Linked DNA regions of Homo sapiens: all the other regions are linked to region 6. Evidence: fine-mapped expression QTL. A gene starts in region 6. Each other region holds a variant in brackets. All regions are shown on one strand. Distances are from middle to middle.

The links.
Region 1: its variant is fine-mapped to the expression of PLXND1 in whole blood (TOPMed, PIP above 0.99).
Region 2: its variant is fine-mapped to the expression of PLXND1 in whole blood (TOPMed, PIP above 0.99). The same link has a PIP of 0.9 or more in blood mononuclear cells.
Region 3: its variant is fine-mapped to the expression of PLXND1 in whole blood (INTERVAL, PIP 0.99).
Region 4: its variant is fine-mapped to the expression of PLXND1 in whole blood (TOPMed, PIP 0.91).
Region 5: its variant is fine-mapped to the expression of PLXND1 in monocytes after R848 (Quach 2016, PIP 0.95).

Annotation. Positions count from the first base shown.
Region 1 is chr3:129,449,056-129,454,126 of GRCh38, forward strand. IFT122 (intraflagellar transport 122) reads left to right here. Exons shown (of 30, transcript NM_052989.3): 2 at 816-882; 3 at 2,859-2,943. Among named protein-coding and RNA genes, the nearest start is that of IFT122, 11 kb to the left of the region's middle. RefSeq lists an enhancer at 331-1,047. The variant C/T (reference allele first, on the strand shown) is at 2,407.
Region 2 is chr3:129,565,880-129,570,950 of GRCh38, forward strand. PLXND1 (plexin D1) reads right to left here. Exons shown (of 36, transcript NM_015103.3): 19 at 4,907-5,056; 20 at 3,964-4,078; 21 at 1,819-1,926; 22 at 1,613-1,725; 23 at 648-752; 24 at 8-138. Among named protein-coding and RNA genes, the nearest start is that of H1-8, 25 kb to the left of the region's middle. The variant A/G (reference allele first, on the strand shown) is at 2,282.
Region 3 is chr3:129,581,867-129,586,937 of GRCh38, forward strand. PLXND1 (plexin D1) reads right to left here. Exons shown (of 36, transcript NM_015103.3): 3 at 4,722-4,853; 4 at 4,306-4,406; 5 at 4,086-4,215; 6 at 2,519-2,696; 7 at 2,259-2,367; 8 at 1,701-1,803. Among named protein-coding and RNA genes, the nearest start is that of PLXND1, 22 kb to the right of the region's middle. The variant T/G (reference allele first, on the strand shown) is at 2,727.
Region 4 is chr3:129,374,129-129,379,199 of GRCh38, forward strand. No RefSeq gene overlaps it. Among named protein-coding and RNA genes, the nearest start is that of SNORA7B, 21 kb to the right of the region's middle. The variant A/G (reference allele first, on the strand shown) is at 1,965.
Region 5 is chr3:130,371,773-130,376,843 of GRCh38, forward strand. It overlaps COL6A5 (collagen type VI alpha 5 chain), which reads left to right. Exons shown (of 41, transcript NM_001278298.2): 2 at 1,839-1,933; 3 at 4,465-5,064. The coding sequence starts at 1,867. Among named protein-coding and RNA genes, the nearest start is that of COL6A5, 29 kb to the left of the region's middle. The variant C/CA (reference allele first, on the strand shown) is at 2,030.
Region 6 is chr3:129,604,487-129,609,557 of GRCh38, forward strand. PLXND1 (plexin D1) reads right to left here and starts at 2,190. Exons shown (of 36, transcript NM_015103.3): 1 at 843-2,190. The coding sequence starts at 2,153. RefSeq lists enhancers at 434-1,426, 2,419-3,411, 3,412-4,402 and silencers at 2,149-2,208, 2,359-2,518.

The DNA of each region.
Region 1 (5,071 bases), 160 kb before region 6:
AAATAATTTCTTGGGCTGCTTTTTATTAAAAGGGAAGTTCTGCCGAAGACTCTTTTACCTTCACTATCTGGCTAAATAATTTCTTTCTAGCTCCTGTATCACTGCGTCTTCCTCCTTCGAATCCTGTTTTCATGTGTCTCTTAAAGCCTTTATCAGAGTACTGTTCTGTATTTCATCCAATCTAATAGGTCATTGATTATAAAATACCATTGTTTTGTGTATCAATAAGAAAGCAAAAAATGCTGCCAGTTACACTGAAACATCATCAATTATAAGACACAACCTTAGAGGTGAGAAAATGTGAAAAAAAAATGTAAGCTTTAGAATTGATGACATATGGTAGTTCTTTGTGAAAGTGTCTGTTTCACACCTTCTCACTGGATAGTAATTTCCCTGAGGGGAGGGAGGGATTATGATCTGTTCATATCTGTTGGTGCCTGGCACCTAAGAGGGACTCAGTAAGTATCTGTGGATTTACTGGCCCTTAACACATTCTCTCATGTTGTCTAGCCTTTATGATATTATTAGAAGAGTTAATACCCTCAACAGTTGACCCTTTGAATAATTTCTTGTGTCTGGCTTCTGGACAAGAGGAAATCAGGACAAAGAGCTAACTACTGAGTGGATCATGATTGAATGGGCTGCTGTGGTGTGGCGGTTGAATGGAATTTGCAACAAATGCAATTCGTAGTTATTCTTTTTCTCCTCAGTACACACACAGTGTTTCTTAATGGCAATAAAGTTTACTTTCCTGGCCATTAGCAGACTTCATCATTTTGGTTCCTAATTGTCTTTTTCCCTTGTCTTCTGTTCAGTATAAATGACATCGCATTTAAGCCTGATGGAACTCAACTGATTTTGGCTGCCGGAAGCAGATTACTGGTAGGATTTTGTCTTAGTTTCCTCTTAAAGTGCTTCCCTAACCTCCCTCTTGTGAGTACTCTGAAATTTGACCCTTTTTTTTTTTTTTTGAGATTAAAAAGGCAAGGGTGGAAAAACCTTCCCTATTACTTTTTAATAGGGATGGAAATGGGCTATTTAAAACGGGCAAGTAAACTATCAGATAAGAACCTGTGAACAATACCACCTTTGGGGTCATTCATCTTTCCCTTTTTACTTTGAGACACCCATGAAAGAGTTGAAAACAATCACAATGCCTTTGAAACTGGACTGGTGTCAGTTTACATTTTGTCCCCCAGAAAAATTCAAGCAACAGGACTGACGGTGCTGTGTCCATGAAAAGTCAGATAGCCTGACCCCAACTTTTAGGCATTGGCCTATCTAAACAGTTCCATATGGATGTTGTCCTATTTTTCATATTTTCAAATAACATAAGCTCCCTCTGGAACCTATCCAGGTATATAAAAGTAATTTTCAGAGAACCCCTTATGTTTGACCAAAAAACCTTTGTATGATCTCTCTTTCTGTCTAAGTCTACTTCCTCTTCTCTGTTGTCTCTAGATACGCAGACTGATTAATCTCCATTCTTTGTATGGTTAACTACATAATCTTAAAACATGGTTAAATTGTTCTGCAGACTTCTCTCCAGTGTAAACAATCCAAACTCTATTAGTTTTTCTACATAGGTTATCTTTTCCAATACTCTAACCATTTCAGAAAGTTTCCGCTTGATTTCTCAGATGGTGTGTGTGTGTGTGTTTTTTTTTTTTTTTTTTTTTTTTGGAGACAGAGTCTGGCTCTGTCGCCCAGGCTGGAGTGCAGTGACGCGATCTCGGCTTACTGCAAGCTCCACCTCCCGGGTTCACACCATTCTCCTGCCTCAGCCTCCTGAGTAGCTGGGACTACAGGCGCCTGCCGCTACGCTCAGCTAATTTTTTGTATTTTTAGTAGAGACGGGGTTTCTCCGTGTTAGCCAGGATGGTCTCGATCTCCTGACCTCGTAATCCACCCACCTCGGCCTCCCAAAGTGCTGGGATTACAGAGGTGAGCCACCGCGCCCGGCCAGATGGTGTGTTTTTAAACTCTCCACATAGTGATAGATGTCACATGGCTATCAAATACCTAAATCCATATTACAGCTGGGTTTTATTTTATTTCTTAGAGACAGGGTTGTGCTCTGTTGCCCAAGCTGGTGTGCAGTAGTGCAGTCATAGATCACTGCAGCCTCAAACTCCTGGGCTTAAGGGATCTTCCCACCTCAGCCTCCCGAGTAGCTAGGACTGTGGACACACACCACCTCGTCCACCTAATTTTTATTTTTTTTTATTTTTATTTATTTTTATTTTTTGTAGAGATGGGGTTTCACTTAGTTGCCCAAGCTGGTCTTGAACTCCTGGTTTCAAGCAATCCTCCCACTTCAGCCTCCCAGAGTGTTGGGATGACAGGAGTGAGCTACCATGCCTGGCCTACAGTTGGGTTTTATAACATTCCCTCCTACTTGAAAGC[C/T]CAGAGTTCTGTGACTTTCAAATTCTTGGTAGCAAATATGAAACATCTATTATGTTGATTTAGTGCAGAGCTGGCATTAAAATTTAATCATGTTGTAGCTGGCTCTTTTTATGGGCTAGTTTTATTTAGGAGGGCCTGCCTTGATCAATCATATATCCAAATTCAGGTAAGGATGAGTATAAAGAATTTCCATGGAGTGAGTAATTGAACCTTTGGTTCTCAAGGATTGGTAGTATATTCCTGGTCACATAGTACATAGACCTGGGTCCTCTACTTCTTGGTTACCCAACTTTAAGTCACGTTGTTTTTGGTTTTGCAGTGCAGTTTTTATTGGCTACAGATTTAGAATATTGACACGTATTGTTATAAAAACAAAAATAGCAGTAGCAACCCTGCAGGAATTCTGACTAATAGATATCACATAGATAATCTGTATTTGTCTCTTTTGCCAGGTTTATGACACCTCTGATGGCACCTTACTTCAGCCCCTCAAGGGACACAAAGACACTGTGTACTGTGTGGCATATGCGAAGGATGGTAAAAGGCTGCTCTGGGTTTCCATTCTCTATAATAGCCTCATCATTGTTCATTTTTCTCTTTAGTCACTTTTTAATTATTTCTAGTAAGCTGGAGTACAAGTTGCAAGTTCAGAAGACAGTGAAGTTGCTAAGACTTCAGTTTGGTCATTCAATCTAGCAAGTATTTATTGAGGTCATCTATGTTCCAGGCACTGTTCAAGGTGCTTGAGTTACTTCAGAGAAAAAAACGGTGGTCCCTCCCCTTATGGGGCTTCTGTTTTATGGGGTGGTGGTGAGAAGTGAGGGAGGAAGAAAGTATGAGGGAAGACATACAGTAAACATAGTAAAAAGGTAAATTAAGTAGTATGCTGGAAGGTGATAACTGTTATGGAAGAAGAAAAAGTAGAGCAGAATGAGGGGGATTGAGAGTGCTGGGCAGGGCAGGGGGTTGGGTACAGTATTGAATTAGACTAGTGAGGGTGGGCTCATTGAGATGAGGACAGGTGAGGAAAAAGACTTTGAAGTCAGGAGGCAATGAGATTGTGCCAGTGGGCATCGGGGGGAAGAGAGCTCTTTGCAGAGGAAGAGCCATTGCAGAGGCCCTCAGGTGTGGGTGTGGCTGCTAGGAGCTGGATCAAAGAGAATCGGGAATTGTAGAGGATGAGGATAAAGTGGTAACAGACATGGGGTGGTCAGATCATAAAGATTTTGATTCTCAGTCAAAATGGAACTACTGAAAGGTCCTCAGCAGAGGAGGGATCTGATTTGATTTGTATTTTAAAAGGATCCCTCTAGTTGCTGAGTTGGAAACAACCTGCAAGAGGTGAGGGTTAGGACATCTGTGTGAGGAAGCATCATCCAGACAGGGGGTGATGGTGGCTCAGACCTCTGTGGGGGCAGAGGAGGTGATGAGAAATTATCAGACTCTGGATATAATGGGAGGGTGGAGCCAACTGGATTGTCTGACAGATTGGATATGGGCTATGAAGAAAAAGGAGTCAAGTTTTTGACCTGAGGACTGAAAGGTTGGAGTTGCCCCCCCCACTGAGATGGAAAAGACTGCAGGTAGAGAAAAGTTATGGTTGAAGATCAGAAATTCAGTTTTATACATGCTGAATTTGAGAAAAGTTGATGATGTCGGAGAGGGGAGAGAACTGCTGGAACAGAGTTGTTGAGTAGGCAAGAGGAGATGGGATCTAGGGCATAGACGGGGTATTTGCTTTAGATAGGGGCACAGTAGGAACTGCAGAGGCCAGCAGATGGGGACAATGTGGTAGTAGGAATCTAATGGAAATTCTCAATTCCATTTTTTTTTTCTTCAGTGAAATAGGAAGCAACAGCAACTGAGAGTGGCAATGGGGAAGGGAGGTTTCAGAGAGTTGAAGAGAAAGGGAAAAAGTGTAAAGTCACTGCCTCAGAGAATGGGACAGCGAGTGGACCCAGGAGGTGTAGTGAGATCCCCGGTGACATGAAGGGCCCTCTTGAAGATTGTGATCATGAATTGAAAGTGAGATTAGTTGGTGTGATTGTGTCTTTTTCTCCAGCGATTTTGAGCTGCATAGTTGTAGAGGCAGAAGAGGTGAATTTAACCAGAGGTGGTTTTGCAAGCACATTTGAAGATGAAGTAGGAGGGCAAGGGAGCAGAAAGTGTATACAGATAAATAATTATGTACATTAACCTTGAATTGTTGGCTGAATAATGAAGGGAGAGAGGACAGCAATGGAGAAGTAGTAGGTTCTGGTGGTGTTGAAGGATTGTTACAGTTGGGGTACCAGGTGGGTTGGGAAGGAAGGGAAGTGGTGCATGAAACTGAGATTTAAATTTATTTTAAAATAAATCCATGTTGTCCCACAGCATAGGATTAGTGGGAAGAAATGGGCTTTGGAATGAGACAGTTGTGAGTTCCAACCCCAACCCAACACCAGAGTTCTGTGAGTCTGAGCTGGTTATTGAGTCTGAGTCACGATTTCTTCATGTATCAAATGGATAACATTGAGATAACATTCTGTAGCCACTGCCAAGAAGTCACAAAATTGTAATGTTATAATTCTTGAATGAACCTTGGAGATTATTCCAGTCCCAGGTTTTTAACTTCTTTTGGCTGATGGGCCTCTTTGATAATCAGATGGAAGCTTTAGACCACTTT
Region 2 (5,071 bases), 39 kb before region 6:
GCCTGACCTGTCGCGCACCGCAAAGTCCTTCTGCTGCTCCAGCGCGTGGACAAAGACGATGAGGAAGTGCTTGTTGTTGAGTAGTGAGGAGAACAAGCTAATTCCCTCTTCCATGTTGGGCCGGCAGCTCTCAGGAATCTGTGGAAGCAACTGGTGATGGGGTGTCCAGAGGGGCCCAGTGTCCCTGCCTAGCCTAACAGCCAGTGCTTACGACGGCTGCTTGTATGCCTCCTGGGATGGGGAGCTCATTACCTTCCACGGTGGATGCCTCCTAACCTTTGTGACAGGGAACAATAGCTTGGTTGAATTGAAAAGTGGGGCTCAGAGAAGGGTAAGGGTGCCTGGAGGTAACCTGGCATCCCAGTGTGGAGGACTCTCACCTTCCATTTTCTAAGCAGGTTGAGTGGGGTGTACAGGGGGGCCCAATCCTCTGTCTGCTCTACCTGGCCTGCGGGGGCAGCACTTATAATACCCTGAATGGCTGCCTGAATGCCTCCTGGGATGGAGGGCTCAGTACCTTACAATGGCAGATGCCTCCCAACTCCGCATGACAGGGATCAATGCATTAGATGAACTGGAAAGGGGACCCAGGGGGGAGCAGGGTTGCCCTGAAGCAGCCCACTGTGTGTGGGTCGTGGGGTACTCACCTTCCACTCTCCCAGCAGTGGGTGGGTTTCCTGTGCCTGGGAGCTGCCCTGGGAGTTGAGGGTCTGGGAGGGCAGCACGTAACGCTCTTCATAAAGGGAGGAACACTGCAGAGGCAGACCCCCAGCATCTCAGCGGGGCTGGACACCCCCTGCTGGCATGGAAAGGTCACTCACACAGAAAGGGGCACTGGCTTGGGCTGCTGGGGGAAACTGGCACGGAATTAGCTCCCCATAAAGGACTAAGAGGCAGTGGGCCAAGCCTGGGGGCTGTGGAATTCCAGGGGTGTGGCCACACAAGACAGCACAAGACTTAAGGGGAAGCAAAAGCAGCTCCATGTGCAATGGGGGAAACTGAGGCAGAAAGGCTGGGAGTCTGAGCTTTAGCCTGAGGCTGGGAAAAGCTACTGGAGGGTTTCGTGAAAAATGATGTAGTCAAACATGGGCTTGCTTTGGCCACTGTGTGGGGAATGGTGTGGACAGGGGAGAGAGGGTGGTACCACTAGGAGGTAGAGTGAGGGTAGTGGACCCTGGAAGGGCAAGGGGAGGCATGAGAGGCATGGAAGGGATGGGGCAGGAGTCCAGTGGACAGGAGGAGGGAGTGTAGAGACCAAGGGAAGCCTGGCTGGGAAGAGGCACAGGAAGGAGAGAGGCTGGCCTGGGACAGCCCTGGCCGCTTCTGCCCCACCTTGAAAAGGGGAGAGGCAGGCCCAGCTGGCCAGGACAGCGGGGCTGCAGCTGGCTTCCATATGGACTGTTAAACATCAAGTGAGCAGAGAATGACAGTGGAGAATCTGCCTCCAACCCTTCTCCCCGTGGCAGGCCAGGGCAAGTGGCCAGGACGGCTGCGGACAGCTGTGCAGGTTTGGCACTGCTCAAGGGACCCTATAGGCTGGCAGGGCTCAGAGAGGTCGAGTTGCCTTGAGGTGGCTGGCACAGGTTCAGGGCAGGCTCAGGCTCGGGCTGACCTTGGGGAAGAAGGTGCGGGTCACGAAGTGCTTATACTCCAGGAAGGGGATGCCCTGGCTGCGGTTCAGCTCCTTGGTGAGATCTGTCATGTCTGTCTGCAGCTCAGCGAAGCCTGGCGGACACACGGACAGCCGTGAGCGGCCCGAGAACCCATCCCCTAGGAGGGAAAGTTGAGGCCCAGCCCTGCAGGGTCCCCGCCCACTACCTTTGCGGATTTCCTCTCGGATCTGAGATTCCATCTCCTCCATCTGCAGCAGCGTCTTCTGCCAGTAACGCTCAGCACGTCGGCTCTTGGTACAGAAGACGAACAGGGCTGCGGGCAGTGGAGAGGCAGGTCAGGCCTCTGGTGCCCTTTGGAAAGCCTTTATTGGCGCCTGCTGTATTCTGGCCTCCGCTCCAGCTCCTCTGGGCAGGGTGTGGGAGGAGGCCCTGCAGTCCTCCCTCCTGGGCAGGGTTGGGGTGGGGGGTGGGGAGTTGCGGGGAGCTCTCCCGTGGACAGAGGGCTTGGGGAATGGCCAGCAAAGCAATGCCTGATGACCCGTCCTTAGAAAAAGAAGTGTGTAGTGTTACAGCTCTGTTAGAATTTGTCTAGCCCCGTTAAAAAAAAAAAGAAACAGGAATACGTGTGTGTGAAATAGTGGTTAACAGTGGCTTTCCTGGGTGGGAGG[A/G]TTCTGGGTGACTTCGGTTTACTTTCTGCTTTTGAGCATTTTCTATTCCTTCTACAATGACCAGGTGTTACTTGTAAATTAAGAAACTTTTAAAAGCAGATTACAAAGCAATATTACATTATAACCTTTCCTGGGGTGGGGAGGAATATATACATAATGTATTAAAATATCTATTAATATATAGTATTTTCAGAAAAGAGACTGGGAGGGAAGATACAAAAATACACAGGGTATTAATGATGGGTATTTTTTCCTTTTATCATCTTTCAGTTTTTCCAAAAATTTTCTGCATTGAATATACTCACTTTAAAAATAAAACAGCTTTATTGTGAAATAACGTACATACCATATAATCCAGTGATTTAAAGTGTATACTTCAATGGTTTCTTTTCTTTCTTTTTTTCTTTTGAGACAGTCTTACTCTGGCACCCAGGCTGAAGTACAGTGGCGCGATCACATCTCACTGCAGCCTCCACCTCCCAGGCTCAGGTGATCCTCCCACCTCAGCCTCCTGAGTAGCTGGGACTACAGACTCATGCCACCATGCCCAGGTAATTTTTGTATTTTTTGTAGAGATAAAGTTTTGCCATGTTGCCCAAGCTGGTCTTGAACTCCTGGGCTCAAGTGAGCCACCCACCTTGGCCTCCCAAAGTGCTGGGACTACAGGCATAAGCCACTGAGCCTGGCCTAATTCAATGGTTTCTAGTATATTCACAGAGTTGTGCAACCATCACCACTAATTTTAGAGCATTTTTGCTGCCCCAAGAAGACCCATACCCATGCAGCAGTCACTCCCCATTCGTGTTCTCCCTAGTCCCTGGCAATCACCATTCAGCTTTCTGTCTCTATGAATTTCCCTATTCTAAACATTTCATATAAATGGCATCATACAATATGCCTTTGGTGAGTCTTCTTTTGGTTAGTGTAATATTGTCAAGGTGCCTGCCCATGGTGGCATGGATCAGTACTCCACTCCTTCTTACGGATAAATAATTTTCCATTGTATGAATAGATCATATTTCATTTATTCATTTATTGGTTGATGGACATTTGGGTTGTTTTGACTTCCTGGTTATTATAAATAATGTTGCTATAAACGTGTGTACAAGTTTTTGTGTGGCTACGTTTTCATTTCTCTTGAGCAGATAGCTAGGGGTGGAATTGCTGGGTCATAGGTCATAGGGTAATTCTATGTTTCACATCCTAAGAAACTTCCAAAATGTTTTCCAAAGCAGCTGCGCTTTTTTGTATTCCCTCTAGTAGCGTATGATGGCTCCAGTTTCTCTGCTACATCGAGTCTATTACTTTATTGACCATTATTTTAACAGTGGTATAGCCCACCAGACATGTAGGTTAATTTTTCCTGAGTAATCCTCTCTTAAGTACCTTCAGTAGCTCTCTATTGACTGGAGAACATGGTTCCAAATTTCTCTGCTTGAGATTCAGGGACCTGGGCGTGGGCCTAGCATATCCCCTGGCCACCTAACATCTTCTACCCATTGGTGCTGGAGCCAGGGCACACCTCCCCCAACCTCTGGGTGCCTAACCTGTTCCCATGGCCAAGCCTTTGTTCAAGCTGTGCCCCATCCCATCCTGCCTTCTCCCATCTGCCAATCTTCAGAGGGGCTGGGGCAAGGTGGCAAGCCTGCCCTCCAAGGTGTCCTGAGGGTGGGGCTCCTTACCCACCACGGAGAGCAGCAGCAGGACGCTGCAGATGACGATGGACACGATGATGGCCGTCTCGCTGCCCCCCAGCTGCAGTGTGGCGATGGTCTGGTTGAAGTTCCCTACCTGGATCTGTGCAGAGGTTGGGGAAGGGGGTTGTAGCTTTCCTGGACTTATACTCTAGTTCTGCTCCTCACTTGCTGTGTGGCCCTGGGTAAATTACCTAACCTCTCTGAGCCTCAGGTGCCACACTGATAACATAGAGATAACAATGTCCACCTCCTGGGGACACTGGGAAGGCTAAATGAGGGCTTGTCAAGCCCTTGGTCCTGGGCCTGGCACAGAGGTGGCTCAATGCAGGGGGCTGTGATTATCATTACAGCCTGGGAGGAGTAGTGAGTGAGCAAGAGGAAGCAGTTCACGGGGCCTGGCTGCTGTCCCCAAGTATCTGCAAGGCTGCCCTGGGACCAGGGGGTAGGTGAGGTATGAGGACTCAGAGTGCAGGACTGGGACTGAGGTGCAGGTGAAAGAAAGCTTTCCCAGTCAGAGCCATCCTGGGGTGGCACACGCTGCTTGGGAGAGAGTGAGCTCCCCATCCCAGGAGACATGCAAGGAGATAGTGTTCTGGCCCCTCTCTGCTCCTCCTGCTCCCCTGCCTCTACATGGTGCCTGGCAGCCCAGGCTCTAGGATAGACGCCAAGGGGGACAGGGACAATTTCTTATGGTTTCTGATGGTCCAGGTCCAGATGGGGCCCATCACTGACCTCAAGCAAGTCACTAAGTTCTTGGGCCTCAGTTTCCTCATATGTCAAGTGGGGATGTAAAGCTCTGCTTTGCTGGACTGAGCTGTTGAGCGTGAAAACGCTCAGTGAATTCAGGTGCTGGGTGAGGGGCAGATGCTTGGCAGATGGGCCAGGGGTGGGGCCAGGTCTGCCCTGCTCCGGCGCCCCATCCACTCACTGTGATGGGCAGCTGCCCCACGGCCGCGCCCAGGGACTCGTTGACCGAGCAGTGGATGATTCTGTCAGAGACAATCTGGATGTCGCAGCTTACTTGGCCTATCTTGACCCGGTACTCGTGACTCTGGAGCCCCAGGCTGTCCTGCTCCTTCTGTGGGTGCAAAGG
Region 3 (5,071 bases), 23 kb before region 6:
ACAAGAAGCAGGCTGCTGCCCAGTGTGATGCTTCCCACCACCATAACCGAGCCCCTGCTGTGTACACAACCCTGGGCTGGGAGCTGGAAGGAAGAGACGTGATTGAGATGGGGTCCCCAGACAGGAGCAGGAGTCCTAGTGGGGTCCCAACTGTGGAATCTGGGGGTCCAGGAGCAGCTCAGGGCTCCCGTATGGTTTCACTGCACCGACTCCACTGGGCTCTCCTCCAGTGCTGGAAGCCCCCTGCTGCCAAGCCCCTCTTCGAATAGAATTAAGCATGGCCCCTGCCAGGCTCTTCTTCAAAGCAGTTATGGGGCTCAGGTGGGAGGTGCTGCGCACTGCGAGCGAGCAGGGGATTCCAGGCTGAGGCCATGGGGCCCCCTCCTTAGCAACTGCCGGGGTAGACAGGGCTTCAGGGATTCCTGAGAAGATTCTCTGAGCTCAGTGCAAAAAGGCTGGGGCTGCAGAGGCTCTGGGCGCTGGGGCTGCTTCCCCGGGATGTGTGCCCAGAAAGGGGCCCCAGTGACCTTCTGCAGGGAGCCAGGGCACCAGGTGCCATGCTGGTTATCTCAGTTGTGCCATCTGGAATATGGGCAGGACCAGCCTTTGCCTGGAGAGATGAGCTGCAGGAAGGCTGGTGCCCTACCCCAGCCACCCACAGCCCTGATACGCGCCAGGTCTGAGAGGGGACGAGCTGTGATCTCAGGACCCTGGCACATCCCACCTGGCTAGGCCTTATCACCCCAGCCAAGGTCCCAGGCATCCCATTTGGCCATCCTGGCACGGGCTGCGGTGGCCTTAGAGGCTTCCTGGGCAAAGGTGAGAGGCCACCTGGAAAGTGAACAAGTCTCAGAAACCAACCAGGGGCGAGGTATGTGGCATGTCCATTTTTACTTTATCTTTACACTAAAAAGCCTAGATTGATCCATTTTTACATTTCCTCCTCTTGCTCCCACCCCATTTAGTTGATTAAACCCAACCACCATGCAGTGCTGGGGCAGGCCTGGCCCCTGACAAGCATGGAGTCAGACTGCAGGGTCCTAGGGACTGACATGAGGACCTGGGAGCGTGTGGTTTCTGAGGCCAGCCCATCCTCCCTGTCCAGGGACAGCTGCAGCACCACCCACCCTTGGGACGCCACTGCTCGTGCAGAAACCCAGGCAGGGCCCTTTCCACCCAGTTCCTGATTTTCACAGGAGGGGAGAATATGGGCTCCAGGGGCAGAGGGACTTGGGTTAAGGCCCAAGTCTGGTACTGCCTGAGTCGATGACCTTAAGCGAATCACCTCCACAGGCCTTGAGGACAAATGCCCTGAACACCTAGGGTTGTTGAAATGGTCTTCCTACTGCAGTGGGGGTATAAACTGGCTCAGGCTTTCTGGAAGGCAGCTGAGCTCAAGGTGTAGAACTATGGCCACACTACCAGCCCAACAGGTCATTTCTAAGAAGCGGTCTTCAGGGAATCATCAAGGATATGCATAGTGCCCTGGCTATATCAAAATGCAAAAAAGAGGAAATAATTAGTATGTCCAACTATAGGGCATGGGTTAAACGCACCGTGGTATGTGATGAGCCCCATATAGCTGTCAAAGCCAAAGCTAAGGCGGAATATGCAAAGGCATTGAAACATTCTCAACATGTGAATTTTTTAAAAAAGGTAATGAAACAGCAGAGGCGGAGGGGCCCCCTAGCCTGGCTTACCGTGGGGTTTGGTGAGGCCTCGCACCGAGACTGGTTGGAAACACAGGAGTGCTGCTGGCTGCACCAGAAACAGGGCCACTGTGCCGACAGGCAGCTGGTACAGCTGGAAGACAAGGAGGCCCCTCAACTCCTGGTTCCCCACCCCTCAACTCATCCCTGTCCCAGGAACTAGAACCCAAAAGGCAGATCCCAGCACAGGGAAAGGTCTTTCTCATCATCGGGGCTGCCTGGGAAAGATTGGGTCTTTAAGGTAGTGAGCTGCCTGCTAACAAGAGGTATACAAATAGGAGTTAAAAGAGACAGGGCCTTTAGAAGACTAAACTGAGTATAATCAAAGCACTTTGCCCCGTCCCACCTGGCTGTCCACAGAGGCCAGGCATCAGGCAGTATGCATTTATTGTAGAATGAATAAATGTGCTGGTGAATGAACAACTGAAGGGCCTGTCTACCTCTACGATGCTATGATTTTTCTTCTCAGGGCCCCCTGAAAGCAAAGACCCTTCCCGGGGATGCGTTCCTCCCTCCACCAACTGGAGGCAAGCCACCCAAGCCACTCACGCTGTGTGGGGGTACACTTGTGCAGTGCGGCTGCAGTCGTAGATGGTGAAATTGGCCTTGACGATGTTCCGCCCATTGACCCTCACAGACATCTCAACAGTCACGTGGTCTGGAATGGATGGGGGAGCCAGGGGAGGACATGGGGGCAGGGGATTGCCACCAACATCAGAAGCTGTGACCTCTGGCCCCCTGCCATCCCCATGCCTGACAGTCCACCGTTCTGCCCCTCTGGGGCTGTGCCAACAGCACAGCGTGCTTACCCTGGTTGGGGGGGAAGGGCGGAAACTGGTCCCTCGGCAGGAGGTTGCAGTAGGCAATCTGGTGACCAAAGGCAGGGCCTGGGACCCGAGCCACAGTGCGGATGTTGTTCCCATAGTCACAGGCCATCTCCATGCCACTGAGGCTGGGCAGGCTGCCCGAGATCTGCAGGATCATGCCCTGGGGGCAAGGAGCCCTCAGCTCTGGGGG[T/G]CCAGGCTATGCTCCTCACAGCCTGCCCCAGGGCTGTGCACCAACCCAAGGTCTGGCACTGCCTGAATGTCCCCTGGGGGAAGGGGTAGTGGTGGCCAGGACTCAGGGCCAGAGGGCTATGCCCTACATGTGACCCTCTGAGCCTCAGTTTCCCCAGCTGCAAAATGAAACATCATCTTACAGTGGTCAAGAAGGCTCTGCATGATCTGGCCCCTGTGACCTCTGACCCCATCCCCTAATACTCTCCGAAACAGCTGATCTTGTTTCTACCTCAGGGCCTTTGCACTGGCAGTTCCCTCCACCCAGACGCTCTTTCCAGATGCTCACCCTGGCTCCCCTCCTGCATATCTTACCTGACCTGGCCTGAGATGTCTGCACCCACAACCCGCTCCCCACCCCTGTTCTGCTTTCATTTTCTCCACAGTACTTAGCATCACCTTCAGGTTTTATCTTGCCTATTCTCCTCCCCCATGAGCCTGGGGCCAGGGGTCTGTCTTGATTACTGATGTGTCCCCAGAGTCCAGAACTGTGCTTGGCACATAGTACGTGTTCCATAATATTTGTCCAATAAATGAAATGACTGAATGAATGAGGGAAGGACTCTGTGATGTGTGATAACGGCAGGGCAGGGCAGAGGAGCCCCAGATGCTGAGCAGCTACAGGCCAGAGCCGGGCTGTCAGAGCCCCCCAGGGTGAGAGAAGAGGACCCTCATCCTCAGAGAAGTCACTGAGAGCCAGATGCATGAACCCCAGGCCTGTCTGACCCTCGGCTCCCACCCCTTGCCGGGGCCCAGAATCCCCCACCGCCAAGGCTGCCTGCCAGAGCCCTCCTGGCACAAGCCGGGGGAGACCCAGCCCCCTGCATTGCAGGTTTATCTGTTTCTGAGAAGGAGAAATTTCAGTCTGGCACCTGGTGGTCCCTCCCTCCATCCCCTGTTCTGGGAAAAGGTGGGTGGAACTCACTGTCCTCCAAGCCTCCAACTTGTACCCTCCCTCCTGGGTCTCTAGAACCCGCCTCTTGAGTTTAGATTCCAGCTCTACCACTCCCTAGCTGTGCGACCTGCAGCAAGTCGTTTCACCACTTGGTGCCTCAGTTTCCCCATCTGTAAAATGAGGATGTCAAAAGCATCTGCTTCATAGGGTGTGTAAGGCCTAACGGAGGTGGACGTCAAGCACAGAGCACGTGCCTGGCACTTACTAGTTGGTCAGGAAAGCCCAGTCATTGTCACTGTTCTCATTATTTGTCTTCAGGTCCTTGGGGCACCATGGGTGGGAGTCTCCACCTCTCGGGGCCTGGGTGCTGGGTGAAGGGAGGCTCCCCTGTGTCCCGAGCTGGGTCTTGCCTCCCCCAGGACTCACTGGGTACTCCTGGCGCACATCGATCTCGGAAGGCAGGACGGTCATGGCAGGACAGCGGCTGGGGCCCTCGCTGGCACTGGTCCAGAAATGCTGCTGGCTGGAATTGGTGCAGTCCTGCTGCAAGGTGCACCTGGGGTGGCACCGCAGGGTCAGGACCCAGGTCAGCTCCTCCCACCCCCACAGCCCTCCTGGTCCAGCTGTTGCTGGTGTCCAGCCTCACCGCGTCTCCAGGGCACACCAGCCGCAGTAGGCGTCCGCCGCACCCACGCAGTCCCCACAGGTGGAGTGCACGTTGCAGGCGGCGACCTTCACCCTGGCCATCTGGGGGCAGAGGTGGGGGCCCAGCTCAATGGGACTGCCAGCCTCTCCCTTGGGGAGGTGGTACGGTCAGCATGGTGCGGGCCATGAGAGGCTGGGGAAACTGAGGGTCAACACTCTAATGGGGGAACATGGGAGACAAGGCTTCCCTGCAGAGGCAAGGTCGGTGTTGGGAGGCGCAGGACAAGGTGGAGTTAGCAGATAAGGGAGATGGAGGAGGAGGGTGCTCCCAGCAGAGGAACAGCGTGTGTAAAGGCCAGGCAAGCAAGAGGGCTCGGCTGGTGCTGGGATGGCGTTGGGCTGGGGCTCTGGCCTCACCTGGTGGGACGTCATCAGGTAAAGGTAACCGGAGTCTGCTGGGTCAAACTGCATGACATGGTGCACGGGCTCCCCATAGGCCACAGTCACCACCCGCCTGCTCACCACCTGCATGCTCTCGTTCAGGTTGATCTGTGGGGGTAGTGGGCATCAGGGTGCTGGAGCCCATAGCAGGGGAGGCCAAACCCAGGGGACAACCTGAGCCCGGGTCTGGGGGCTCTGCCTCCCCATCCTGTCTTGGACCCTTCAGGAGGGGTGGGAAGTCACGGGCGTGCAGGGGAGGGCACAGGGCCGGGCCTTGATGCTTCTGCCTCTGCTGTGCCCCCACCAGGAGCTCCTTCTGGGCTCGT
Region 4 (5,071 bases), 230 kb before region 6:
ATTTGCAAGTCCCTGAACTTACAGACAAAATCTTTTGAAGCATCATGGTGCAAAGGGCCAGAAGCCCCTGGGAGAACTGGTCCTGCATTCCCATGCATGGCACACAACAGCAATAGAGTCCACAGCAGAAGAATAAGCCTGTTCCTATAATCATGGCCAAAATCATGAGCAATTTTTCCACCAGAAGGGGCCTGATACAAACCATGATAAAAGCCATTGATTTAGATATTGTGGGATCAGACATAGCACTAGTTTACTTGTGTATGTCTCGCAGGGCTGAGAATATGTTTCTGGAGTTATCCAGGAAGTACACACAACATTCAGTCTCTTTAAAATTTATTATTATCATTTTGAGACCGGGTCTCACTCTTTCATCCAGGCTGAAGAGCAGTGGCATGAAAGTGGCTCACTGCAGCATCGACCTCCTGGGCTCAAGTGATCCTCCTGCTCCAGCCTCCGTGTAGCTGGGACTACAGGTGTGTGCAACCACCCAGGGCAAATTTGATTTTTTTGTAGAGATGGGCTCTCACTTTTTTGTTCAGGCTGGTCAATCAAATTTATAGTCCATGTTTCCCACTGTCAATTGTACCCAGAGCTCCAGTGGGGATCTGAGGACAGGTTGGCTAATTATACATATTTAACAGGCTTTGGGAGGAGCTATGAATGCTCGTGAAGGTGGTCCTGACATGTGTATTGAACAAATACGCATGTGACATATGACCCATGTTCAGTTTGGAGTGGGGACCATTTAAATGTGTTACAATTAGGCCCTATATGTCAAAAAGTTTTTTCGGGACACAAAGGCATCCAAGTGTGTGATTTTTGTAGACCGGCCAGAACTAATGCAAGCTCGGTGGTCTTTTTATCAGGGGAAAGTTACTGAAATCAGTCTCTTGTTTAATTAAAGCCGTAGCTGTGGCTGGTAGAATGGGGCCGGTTGTCAGTCAGTCAACATTAGAGGAGTGTAAATGGTTTTAATGTTGCTTATCTCGAGGCCAGTGGTTGTTTGGCTGCTGGGACCTCAGTTTTAAAAATCACCTACTTTGTTTTTCTTTCACCTCTCCACTCTCACCCCTTCATTCCTTCCCTCTGTAGACACTCCTCTCCGGCAATGCATGTTTATCTAATTATGCTCTTGTTTAAGAAACCCCAGAGGCGAATCTTGAAACAAACCAGGCATGGAGCCTCTGTGGAATACTCCCGCTTAGGGGGAGTCATGAACAATTAGTCCACCACCATTGGGCCAAAGTCACAATAACACCAATCAGACCTCCAGACCAGCAATGACCTGAGACAGCCATGGGGACAAAGACACAGACTCTGTGCCCTGCACCATTCCCATATCTCCCATGCCAAGTTTCGCTTTAAAACCCCTATGGTCAATTTGAAAAGGTAAGATGCTCCTTTAGAACGCTCGTTTGACATCTCCATTTGCCGGCTCTCCAATTAAACCTGCTTTTCTTCCCACCAGCCCTCACCTTTCATGTTTGGCTCATGTAGCTGAACCTGGGTCCACTTACAGAGGTTAACGATCATGCCTGCATTTTGCCCAGTGCTTCCTCAATTCTGGAGCACCTCTCTTGTTTGCCGATGGTAGCCTGAGCTGGGCAGGGCATCCAAACAGAAGTTAATGGATTTAGGCTGGGCACGGTGGCTCACACCTGTAATCCCAGCACATTGGGAGGCCGAGGTGGGTTGATCACTTGACGTCAGAAGTTTGAGACCAGCCTGGCCAACACAGTGAAATGCTGTCTCTACTAAAAATACAAAAATTAGCTGGCGTGGTGGTGCATGCCTGTAATCCCAGCTACTTGGGAGGCTGAGGCACAAGAATCGCTTGAACCTGTGAGGTGGATGTTGCAGTGAGCTGAGATCACGCCACTGCACTCCAGCCTCGGCAACAGAGTGAGACTCCATCTAAAAAAAAAAAAAAAAAAAAGTTAATGGATTTACCCTAAGTCACA[A/G]GCCTAGGATGTAGCTGAGCTAGGTCACCTGTTCCCCAGCCCATGCCTGCTGCCCGGCTAAAGGAGGGGAAGGTGAGAAGGATGGCACAGTGGAAAAGATAAGCTCTTGGGAGCAGCCACGTCTTGCTGTCAGAGGGTAAATGGCTATAAACCAAAAAGTATTTGACACAAGTCTCCATCACCTTAGGTTTCTTTTGCTAAGGTCAAGGGCCATGGCCTGACAAAGCCTAAGGAGGTCCTGAGAACATGTGCCCAAGGTGGCTGGGTCACAGCTTGGTTTTTGTTTGTTTGTTTCTTTTTGTTTTTGTTTTTTGAGATGGAGTCTCACTCTGTCGCCCAGGCTGGAGTGCAGTGGCACAATCTCGGCTCACTGCAAGTTCCACCTGCTGGGTTCACGCCATTCTCCTGCCTCAGCCTCCCAAGTAGCTGGGACTACAGGCGGAGTCTCGCTCTGTTGCCCAGGCTGGAGTGCAGTGGTGCGATCTTAGCTCACTGCAAGCTCCGCCTCCAGGGTTCATGCCATTCTCCTGCCTCAGCCTCCCAAGTAGCTGGGACTACAGGCGGAGTCTCGCTCTGTTGCCCAGGCTGGAGTGCAGTGGTGCGATCTTAGCTCACTGCAAGCTCCGCCTCCAGGGTTCATGCCATTCTCCTGCCTCAGCCTCCTGAGTAGCTGGGACTACAGGCGCCTGCCACCACGCCTGGCTAATTTTTTGTATTTTTAGTAGAGACGGGGTTTCACCGTGTTAGCCAGGATGGTCTCAATCTCCTGAACTGATGATCCACCTGCCTCGGCCTCCCAAAGTGCAGGGATTACAGGCATGAGCCACCACTCCCAGCCTAATGTATATGTTTATCATTCAACATTTGTTGAGTAGTAAAAATATGAATCAAATAATGATAATCCTAATGATAACATTATTATTATTATTTTTATTTTTGAGATGGAGTCTCACTGTGTCGCCCAGGCTGGACTGCAGTGGTGTGATTTCAGCTCACTGCAAGCTCCACCTCCTGGGTTCATGCCATTCTCCTGCCTCAGCCTCCTGAGTAGCTGGGACTACAGGTGCCCACCACCATGCTCAGCTAATTTTTTATATTTTTAGTAGAGATGGGGTTTCACCATGTTAGCCAGGATAGTGTCAATCTCCTGACCTCATGATCCACCCACCTCGGCCTCCCAAAGTGCTGGGACTACAGGTGTCAGCCACAGTGCCCAGCCAAGCCCAGGTTCTTTTCATGTAGATGAAGCCTTCAGGTAGCAAACTTCAGAGAGAATAGATGGCAAATGTCTCTTGTCTGACCTTAAAAAGTGTCAGCCTCTCCAGAAAAGACCTAGTAAGAGAAGGAGATTCTCTACAGAATGCAAATTTTCCCACACAAGAGAAAGCTTTGCAGGCCCATTTCAAAATATGTCAACAAAATATATTTTGGGGTAAAATACTTTGATTTCCTTAAGGGCCTACTGTTTCATGATGCTGTCATGAAAAAAAACTAGTTCCAACCATCATGGGCATAAGGAGACCCACAATGGGTAGCTCCTCTCTGTAGGCAGGTGGTCCTGTGGAGTGTTCAGCTCTCAGCAGAGAGGAGGCCCTGGGAGGGTGGCTCCTCTCTGCAGGCAGTTCATCTCATTGTCTCTGCAGCTCTCAGTAGATTGGAGCCCCTGGAGAGGGTAGCTCCACTCTCTACTGGTCGTCCTGACATCTGCCGAACTCCTAGCAGAGAGGAAGCCCTGGAGTGGGTTGCTCCTCTCTGAAGCTGGTAGTCCCAACATCTCTGCAGGCCTGTGAAGCTCTCAGCAGAAAGGGTAGCTCTTCTCTGCAGCTGGTCATCCCATAGTCTGCTTAGCTCTGGCTGAACCTGGGGTTTTTATGGGCCTCAGAGGGGAAAAAGTGTATGCTGATTGGTACTTGGGTGGGCCTGGAAAAGGCACCACAAGTTCCCAGTCCAGTCCATGAGACTGGCAGCCTTGGTTCCCAGCCTTCAGACCCTCCCTGGCCTGAAGGTGGGGCCTCACTGGGGACCGGCCCCCTTCCATCCAGGAATCTGTCTGCCTCCTGCTGCCTTCATGACACCTGAGCTTGGCCCCAACATTCCTCCAAGATTGGAGTGGGCAACAACAGCAGGGAGAAGCCAGGCAATGGGAGCAGGCACTGCTGAGCCTGCAAGGGGAAGGGATGCTTCCTGGCCCTCAAGAGTGCAGGGGTGCCTGAGTCTGCAGCCATGGTTTAGGCAGCTACAGCTGTGCCTGGGAGGGCAGGGATCCTGCTTGCTCCTGGCCTCCCAAGAGCACAGGGAGGCTCAGACCTGCAGCCACAAGTTGGGCAGCTACAGCCCTGCCCCGGAGGGCAGGGCTCCTGCCTGCTCTGTGGAGTGGGAGGCCCAGGTCTGCAACCCAATGGTTTGGGCAGCTGCAGTGGCACCTGGGGAGCTCCCACCCCAACTTGGAAGGGCTTCATGGAGTGTGCAACCCCAGCCACGTCTCCCTGCTGCAGCTGGGAGCTACAGTTGAACAGTTGGCTACATTTCATTGTCCAAAACACAGTGATCTGGAGCAGCCACTGCCATCAATGGTATATCAGAATCATGTTGAAATACGGTGTTCTATTGCTGTTACTGGAAGGAGGGCCTTGGGTGTAAGTTGTCTAGGTTCTTGGTGTTTTGAACAAAAAACTGGACAAAATGCACTAAGTAACAAAGGAATGAAACACAGGATCGAAGTACCAAAATCAGGGATTTATAAAAGAGAGAAGGTACGCCACAGGGTGGGACTGGGCCCGAGCAGCTCAAGGGCCCAGTTACAAAGTTTTCTGGGTTTCAAGCACTCCTTTTGAGGTTCCTATCAGTTACCCCTTATATAGTTGAAGGATTTGGTCTGTGGCTAAGTAAACACTGAGGTGAATGGCACCCTATGCAGATGAAGGGATGGTCCCTGCTTGGCCTGTGGCCACTCCAAGCCACTCTCCCTTTTTGTCTAAGCCATGGTGGAAGGGGGAGGGTTGTAGAAAGAGTAACCTTTGACCCTTTGCTACTAAGGCATGGGGAGCTGGGTTTTTCCTTTCGGTTTAGCTTCAGGAAGTTGGCATTAACTGGCCTTAGGGCCCCTG
Region 5 (5,071 bases), 770 kb after region 6:
AGATATGACACTAAAAGCACTAGGAACAAAATAAAACAAAAAACCTCATATAAATTGGACTTCATCAAATTTAAAATCACTTGTGCCTCAAAGGACACATTTAAAAAGTGAAAATACAACACACAGAATGGCAGGAGTATATTAGCAAGTCATATATCTGCTAAGCATGTAGTATTCTAGCATCTAGAGTATATAAAGAATTTTTATATTACAACAATAAAAGACAAAAAACCCAGTTAAAAATGGGTAAAGCATTTAAATAGATGTTTCACCAAATAAGAGATACAAATGGCCATTAAGTACCTGAAAAGATAACATCATTCATCATTAGGGCAATGCAAATGAAAACCATTTATACCCACTAGAATGGCTATAATAACAAAATGGAAAATAAGTGTTGATGGCAATGTGGAGAAGTTGGGACCTTTATACACTGCTGCTGAGAATGTAAAATAGTGTGGCCACTTTGGAAAACAATTTTGCAGTTTCTCAAAATGTTAAACATAGAGTTATGATAAGACCAAATATTTCACTCCTAGGTACCTAGTCCAGATAAATGAAAATATATATTCACACCAGCATGTACATAAGTGTTCATAGCAGTATTATTTATAATAGCCCAAAGTAGAAACAACCCAAATGTTCATCAACTGACAATTAATGTTTTAAATTATATATATATATATCTATATCCATACAATGGAATATTACTCAGCCATAAAAAAGAATTAAGTACTGATACATACCATAACATGGATAAACCTTGAAAACATACTAAATGAAAGAAGCCAAACATAAAGGCCACATATTGTATGATTCTGTTTATACAAAATGTCCAGAATAGGCAAATCCATAGAGAAAGCAAGTAGATCAGTGCCAGCACCTATAGAAGGGGAGTGGGGGAATGGGGAATGACTGCTATGGGTTTGGGGTTTCTTTTTGGGGTGATAAAAATGTTGTTTCCCCTGAACTGGGGGCTTAATCTAAATGATTTATAGGGTCTTCTCCACATCCAGCTTCCAATGATTCTATCAATCTTCCTGAATGAGTAACAATTTCAAAAGGACTCTAAAAATCAGCCCTTACACCTTTGGTATCTGTTTTAAGGGAGATCTATTTTTTGAGTATCGGCCATTTAAATCTATTTCTATTCTTATAAAGAACAAACTCTGATTTGGTTAAATTCCTGAGATTTTAATTTCCCATGAAGCATTCTGATTGATTGTGAACTATGTGGAAAAACCAAACCTAAGGTAGTTTGTGAAATTGAGCATAACTGTAAGTGAGGAAGCAGTTTTCACAAAGGCTTAGTGAAGGAAGAGACGTGTAGCTGTTGGCTTTTTAAGCCAAATTATAAACATATACGATAGTGGCATAACAATAAAGGGTAGAGAATAGTGACTACATAAATTTTGCGAGGACAGTAATTTTGTATAAAGCTTATGACACAGTGGTTAAGAGGTTAGGTGATGCAATTGCTTCGTCTGGGTTAGTACTGTGGATCGATCTACCTCTTACCAAGCCATTTGGTGCTTCAGTTTCCTTTTCTGTCACATAAGTGTAGTAATTGTACCTCCCTATAAGATTGTTGTGAGGATTAAATTAGATGACACTTGTCAAGCACTGAGAAAGGTGTTTGAGCCTTGGCCAGGGCTCAGCAAACATTAGCATTAATATTTTCAACAAATACTCCAAATGCTTGATGAATTTTATAAACACACTTGGCACTGCTTGACAAATACTTGTTTACAGGTACCATGCCCTAATACAACTATCCTGACAGTTACTTAATGGTATAAAATAAAATTTTTCATAATGTAAATAATTTTCTTTTGCAGAACAAAAGTAAAAATCTTCACTAACAAAATGAAGATCTTGCTAATTATATTTGTCCTAATCATTTGGACTGAAACATTGGCAGACCAGAGCCCAGGTATCAGTATATTTTACGTTTATTATTATTTAGGAAATATTTTTACATCTCAGTAAACTTTAATAAACAGCAAGAAATAATTTATTTACTAAAAAT[C/CA]AAAGTATGCAGCATTTAGTAATTGTTATACAACATCAAACAAACTTAACTTGTGAAAGACAGCACAAAGCCATGAGCAAAAGTCAGGAGTTATGTTGCACCTGGCTAGAAAAACTTTAATTATCCATTAATTTGCTTCAATCTCAATATTACATGTCTCCATGGATTGAGTCAGTCCATTTGTTTATAGATCCATTTGAATCTTGATCTCATAAATGAAAGAAAAGGAACCCGACACAGAAAACAAATTCTAAGTATTTTCGTGACTAAAACCATTGCCTTCCTTTCCTTTTACAAGCATGAAATATATATTTACACACAAACACACACACACAGTCATACGTCACTTAACAATGGGTGTACTTCCTGAGAAATGCATCATTAGGTGATTTTGTCATTGTGTAAACATCATAGAGTATACTTATACCTAGATGGTGTAGCCTACTACACACCTAGGGCATATGATACAACCTATTGCTCATAGGCTAAAAACCTGTACTGCATGTTACTATGCTGAATATTGTAGGCAAGTATAATACAATGGTAAGGAGTTATATATCTAAACACATCTAAACACAGAAAAGGCAATACCTTGCACTACCACATTATGACAGCTATGATGTCATTAGGTGATAAGAATTTTTCAGCTCTATTATAATCGTATTTTTTTGAGACAGAGTCTCACTCTGTCACTCAAGCCAGAGTGGAGTGATGCAGTCTCGGCTCACCACAACCTCTGCTCCCTCGGCTCAAGCAATCCTTCTGCCTCAGCCTCCCAAATAGCTGGGACTACAAGTGCATGCCCCCACACCTGGCTAATTTTTATATTTTTTGTAGAGACAGGGTTTCATCATCTTGCACAGGCTGGTCTCAATCTCCTGGGCTCAAGTGATCCTACCACCTTGGCCTTCCAAAGTGCTGGGATTACAGTGTGAGCCACCATGACCAGCCAGCTTAATTTTAACTGTATGAGGCCACTGTCATATATGCAGTCTGTTGTTGACTGAAATGTCATTATGTCGTTGTGAAGCACACGACTGTGTGAGTGTGTGTATGTCCGTGTCTGTGTGCCTGTCTGTATAGGAAAAGCGAGAGAGCATGCATGAAAAGTAAGTTTTTATACTCTCTTGTAATTACTAAAAACATCATTCAAAGAAGTATTTTAAACTGTGCATTGTCACTGTGTTACTCTAAGATTTCCTGATGCATTTCTGAGTTACCTTGAAAGAGCCAGTTGTTAGACATTTACTAGCACATTACTAATTTCAGGAGCAGCACGGCTGACCATGACTGCTAAGGTAGATACTATTGGCACCTCCCTTACCAGACTCTTCTTATCTGGCTGATGCACCCACCTCCCAGCTACTGTGAATATTGCTGGCAACAGCTCATGGCTGTGCCCCATTTTCTCAGGGGAACTGTTCTCAGTTTTCCCACTTAACCAAGAGGTTCTGCCTACAACCTTCTGCTCCTTCTCTCCAACTTCTGGGGATGGTCTGCAGCCAATGACTGACTAATAGGGTAGCACAAAAAACTGGCCCTCTTGCCTCAAAGAGGGACAGCTCTGCTGTAATTTAGGCTCCAGAGCCCCTTGCAGAGCAGGTCAAAGCTAGACCTTACCGGATGACATGCCCTTCTCTGCTTGTTCCCTGTCCTATCCTGTTTCTCTTACATTGCGCGCCCTCAATCAAGCACTTTCATCTGAAATCCCCATCTTAGACTCTGTTCTCCCACCTGAGACAATTGCTTACTCTATAACGTTTTCAAAAATTGCTGTTAGTTCTCAAACAACTTTGGCCCATTCTTACACTGCTATGAAGAAATACCCAAGACTAGGTAATTTACAAAGGAAAGAGGTTTAATTGACTCAGTTCCTCATGGCTGGGGAGGCCCCAGCAAAATTACAATCATGGCAGAAGTGGAAGCAAACATGTCCTTCTTCACATGGTAGCAGTAGAGAGAAGTGCCAAGCAAAAGGGGAAAAGCCATGAGAACTCATGAGACTCTCACTGTCACAAGAACAGCATGGGAGTAAGCACCTCCATGATTCAATTACCTCCTATTGGGTCCCTCCCATGACACATGGGGATTATGGGAGCTATAATTCAAGATGAGATTTGGGTAGGGACACAGCAAAACCAGTCCAGTCAGGGACTTTCTGAGTTGGTACAATATCAGAGTTTAGGGTTCCAGAACTAAAAAAGAAAAGAAGTTTATTGTCTCTTGTATATCTGTTGGCTAACTTTACTAAAGCCCTTTTGTTTGACATTTTAGCAAAGGCAATTATATTTTCTTCTGTTTGACCTCCAGAAGACACTTTTCTTGGGATTCTGATATACACTTAACACCAGCACATAGTCTTAAATAAGTATTGTGGTCTAAAATACAAAGGTTGAATGATAACTTTGTTTTTGCTTGTTATTTTATTTTGATAGGGCCAGGCCCTGTGTATGCAGATGTCGTGTTTCTGGTGGACAGCTCCGATCACCTGGGACCTAAGTCATTCCCATTCGTGAAAACGTTCATCAACAAAATGATCAACAGTCTCCCCATAGAGGCCAACAAATACCGTGTAGCCCTGGCCCAGTACAGCGACGAGTTTCACAGTGAATTCCATCTGAGCACCTTCAAAGGCAGAAGCCCCATGCTGAACCACCTCAAGAAGAACTTTCAGTTCATTGGCGGGTCCCTGCAGATAGGAAAGGCTCTTCAGGAGGCTCATAGGACCTACTTCTCTGCACCCATAAATGGGAGAGACAGGAAACAGTTTCCCCCAATTTTGGTGGTCCTGGCTTCGGCTGAGTCTGAGGATGAAGTGGAAGAGGCTTCGAAAGCCCTGCAGAAAGACGGGGTGAAAATTATCTCCGTGGGGGTGCAGAAAGCTTCTGAGGAAAATCTGAAGGCCATGGCCACATCCCATTTCCATTTCAACCTTCGGACAATCAGAGACCTCAGCACATTTTCCCAAAACATGACACAGATCATCAAGGATGTAACCAAGTATAAGGAGGGAGCCGTCGATGCTGATATGCAAGGTAAGGA
Region 6 (5,071 bases):
GAGGCTACCTGAGAGGGTTGTTCTGAGAACTGGGAATTGTGACATGTGATGCCCCTAGCTGGCACTCCACAAGTGCTATTGTTTACCCCAGACTCCCACACCTGGTACATACTAGGTGCTCAGGAAATATTTGCAGAATAGGTGAATAAAAGTTGGCCTCAGGCACACACCTGTTTGCCAACCATGCAGCCTCCTCAGAGTACCGACTCATGCCCAAATACCTGCGTCCCCTGCCACGCACATCCCACTGCACACCTAGCCCTGTCCCGTTGTACCAGTGTCTGTGCAGTACACCTGTCTGCCCTGTGCGTCTTCAGGCCCCAGCTTGCTGGCACACAAGTCCATGCAGACATCTGCAGGGCCCTGGTGCACACCTGTGTGCCTCCTTGCACACCTGCCACACCCATGCACCCATCACCAACGTGCAATGGTAACTCTGACAGGCTCACGCAGTGGCCCCAGAACACAACTTTGGTCAGGCATGCAGTCACTTACTGCGCCCTCAGCATGCACCTGTGACCCTCACGTGCATACCTGGGCTTTATGCGCACCTGGGTACCTGTGGCAACTTGGACCCCTCCCAGTACGCCTAGGTATGCGCGCCCATGAGCCGGCACTCACTTGAGTCCCTGCACATGCCCACCTGGGCCATACAGGCGCCAGTAGTACCCCTCGGGGGACACCTGTATTCTCGCGTGCACACCTGGGTTCCACGTACATCTGGATCTCTGCGCGCTCCCACCTGTGACCCACTCAGCTCACGACCCGCTCGGTTCCCGCCCGCCCCCGCCCCCGCCCCCGCCGCCGCCGCCGCCGCCGCCGCCGCCACCGCCCGGGTGTACCTGGATGTTGAGCTTGCGCTCACAGGCCGGTCCCGTGCCCTGCACCACGCTGTCGAGCACCGCCACCACGTCGGGCGCCGGTTCCACGAAGCAGGCGGTGCGCGCAGCTCGGATGGCGGCTCGCACGTCGGCGAAGCGGAAGGCGCAGAGTGCGGCCGGAGCAGCGCGGGCCGCGGGGGACCCCTGGGGCCGCTCGAAGACAGCAAAGAGCCGCTCCCGGGCTGGGAAGACCGACACCAGGCGGCTGTAGAGGTCGCCGCGGCCCGCGCCGCCCGCGCACTGCAAGCCCAACTGGATGTAGGACTCGGTGAGCTTCTTGGCGTCGCCGCCGGCGCCGTGGGGCAGGCAGATGCGCGCCAGCAGGCTCCGCGCCTGGCTCTCCTTGTCGCCCGCGCGCGCCTCGCTGTTGAGCGCCAGGTACGCGTAGGACTGTGCACCCGGCGGCGGGTCGGACGGGTGCAGGAAGGCGCTCACGAAGCCCAGCTTGTGCTGCTCCTTGGCGCCCTGCTTGATCTTGAGGATGTTGTCGTCGGAGGGGTTGAGGTCGAAGGTGAAGAGCTTGGCCAGGTCGCCGCGCGTGTCCAGGGAGCGGATGGCGATCTCGGGCGTGTTCTCGAAGCGGTGGTCCTCCAGGCTGCGGTTGCGCGGGAAGAAGGAGCTGCCGTAACCGGTGTACGTGGCGCCCACGAGCAGGCGGCTGCCCCCCGCGCCCGCGGCGGGAGGCAGAACTAGCCCCACGGTGGACGCGTTCGGGTGGTTGGCCGCCACGTTCAGCATGCTGGGGAACACCGTGACGGGCTCGGCGGGCGGCGCGGCGGGCGGGAAGCGCACGGCCACGGCCGAGATGTTGCCCCGGCGCCGCAGCTGGCAGAAGCCCTGGTAGATGGACCCGCACACGACTACCAGGCCCTGGCCGGGGTCCAGCTGCAGGATCTTGTTGTAGTTGTCCGTGAGGCGCCGCGGGTGCTCGCACGAGGCCTGCGGCAGCTGCGGAGCGTGACACAGCGGGCTGTCGGGCACCGGGCCCACGGCCGCCTCGGCCTCCAGGCTCAGGTTGGCGCCCGACAGCTGATAGAGGCGGTTGACGGCCGCCAGGTACACGGTCCCCGCCGCGCCGTCCAGGGCGAAGTTGTTGGTGGGCGTGGGCGAGGGGAACCGACGCTGGATCTCCAGGGCGCCGGCCCGCGCCGCCCCCAGGAGCAGCAGCAACAGCAGCGGCACCGGGCACCGCGGCGGCGTCTGGAACGGCGGGGGGCTGGCGGCGGCGGCCCGGGCGCTAAGGGGTGCGCCGCCCGCGGCGCGAGGAGCCATCCGGGCGTGCGCGGGCTGCGCGGCGCGGCGAGTGCATGGGGCGAGGCGCGGCCGGGAGCCGGGAGCCCGGAGGCGGCGGGAGGCGGGGGGCGGGCCCGGGCCGCGATGCGCTTCCTGCCCGCGCCAGCCGCCCCCGACCCCGGCGCCCGGGCCCGGGTCAGCCTCGCCGCGCAGCCCGGGGGCGGGGCGGGGGCGGCTCCGCTGCGGACACGCCCTCACTCCCCGCCCCGGCCCCGCCCGCCCCCGGGACCCCCGCCTGCCCCTGGCCGCCCTGGGCCACGCCCCGCCGTCCGCGGGTCCCGCCGCCCGCGCCCTCCAGGACCCGCCCGCGGCCCCAGGGTCCCTCCCCGTAGCCGCCGCCGCCGTCGCTCGCTCTCCTCGCTCTTTCCTCCCACTTGGCCGCTTGGCCTGCCTCGCTCGCGCCTGTTTTCTCTTTTCCGCCCTCTCCCCCACCCCGTCTCTCCCTCTCTCTGCGTCTCTCGGTCTCTGCGTCTCTCCGTCTCTGTCCCCACCCCAAACTCCGCGCGTGTGGCGCTTCTCCGGGTTCTGCCTCTGCTTCTCCTTCTCCCTCCGACTCCGCTTCGCTCTCCAGTCCCTGGCAGCCCCGCCCCCGGCCCTTTCTAGTCTCCTTCTCTCTCCTGCTCCGTTTTTCCGTCCCTGACGCTCGCTCCCTCTCTCCGTGGCTCCCTCTGCCTCCCCCTCGGACCCTCCGTCCCTCTCTCGGTCCCTCTGAGCTCCCCTTTCCTTCTCCCTCTGCCTTCCCGAACCCTGTGTCTCCCCTCCACACTCAGCCTCCCTCCACCACCTTTCTCAGGCACTGTCCAGGCCTTCGCTCCCCCGGTGCCGGCCAGTCGGGCCCCCCAGACCCCATAATCTGTCCCCCAAACCCCAGACCCATAAAAGGGATTTACAAGTGGCAGGGCCAGAGGGACCAGTGCTCAGGGTCAGATATATAAATGAGGAAAACATGGAGAGAGGAAATAGTTCCAGCCAGTGGCCCACAACCGATAGCCAGAGCAAGGCCTTGGTCCTGGAGCCCACAGTTGCCTCCTGTGGAGACCCAGCCGCACCCCCACCCCTGGCACCCCCGCCAGGCACTTTCCCTGACATCCTCCCAGGCTTAGTGGAAGATTAGTCCCACAAAAGCCGGCACTGGGCAGGGTTCTTGATCTCAAAAGCAGCGTTAGGGGCAGGCAGCCTGGTTCCAAGGTCACAGCCCTGTGAGGACCATGCGCCGTGGCTGTTTTGCGGGGGTGCTCACACAGGGCTAGCCCGTGCCAGACACTGTGCCAAGCACTTGCCATGTACGGGCTCTCTTTTTCCTCACAGATTCCCCCGAGGCGAGCGCTATTGGTAACCCATCTTCCAGATATGGAAACCAAGGCTGAGGGGAAGGGACTGGCCCAAGATGCACAGCTCATGAGGAGCAGAGCTACAGTGTTTGAAAGCAAAAGCCCTTCAGCTCCGACCTCTCAGAACGGGGCCTCCCATCAGACCCCCAGCTTCCACAGGGTGCCCGGTGGGCCTCACTCTGAGAGTAGCGGGACCTCATTTTCCTCTTTCCCACCCAACCAGGAAGGAAGGGCAGGGGTGTCTGTGCACCATGGGGCCGGCAGGAAAGGCTGGGCCTGCAGCCGCCCCCCACTTCCCTCAACACCCTCGCCTTCCTGCCATCCTGCCCGCCTTGTTCCAGACCCCTCAGCCCTGGTCTGGCCACTGCTTTGATGGCCGGGAGTGTTGAGCTGCAGGAAATTGGAGGCCCCCTCCCAGGCCCATCCACCCACCAAGAGCCACTCAGGGGACTGCCCGTGGGACTGTGTCCCTGTCTTCCTCTCTGGATGGAGAAGGCGCACATCGTGCCACCCGTGGGGGCCAACTGCAGAGCCCAGCAGGGGTGCATGGGGCCTGCCTCCATGCCCCTCCTCCTCACTCACATCCTCAGTGCCCCCACCCCAGTCCATCCGCTGGTCTCTCTGTCTTATCTCTCTCTCTCCTGCCCCCACCCATCTCTGTTCCTATCTGTCTTGCTCCTCCCGTTCACTCTCTTTGTCTCTCCTTCTCTCAGTGTCTTGCCCCCTTCCCTTTCCACTCTTCATCTGTCTCTCTGTGTCTCTATCTCTGTCTCTCTCTCTGTCTCCCTCCCTATCCCTCACCCCCACTCCCTCTCCAGCCCCTCCTCTCTTCCTTCCTGTCTCCCGCTCATCTGGTTCATCTTGCTGCATCCTGCAGCTCCCCCCACTGAGCCGTGAGGATAATGCTCAGTGTTGTCTTAGACCAGCCTGTGGTGATGATCCTGGGCACTTGGGACACAAGCTCCCTGCCAAGCTGAGCAGTGGGGTTTAGGAGCTCTCTAGGTGAAGGGTATTCGGGTCTGAGTATCCTCACATCAACTGGAGGTGAGAAGTGCTGTGTGGTCTTGTGCAAGGCACTCACCCTCTCTGAGCCTCAGTTTCCTCAACTGTAAAATGAGGACAATCGTAGCAGAACACCTGCCCCTGGGAGGGTGTGAGATGGAGAATATAACATAACAGGTGTCAAGCACAACAAGGCTCTTAGCAAACACCAGTTTCTCCCCGCCTTGTGGCAGTGAACCATGACCCCTGAAGCCCATGTTAGAGCCAGGAGTTGGGGTGGGGGGCATTGCAACTAAAGACCAGGGCTCCACCTCCTGTCCTGAGCCCCAATGTGGCTAGCAGAGCCACCAGACGGTGAGAGTGAATCCTGTGCCCAGCACTGCCCTACCAGATCTTACACCATCCTTGCAGCCAGCTGACTAGGCTGTGGTCAGCAAACCCATTTCACAGATGGGGAAACTGAGGGGCATTAGCAAGGTAAGGATTGAAACCCAGATCTGGCTCCACATCTTATGATTTCTCCCTTCTACCCATTAGCTGGGAGCACCATCAGGCCAGGATGGC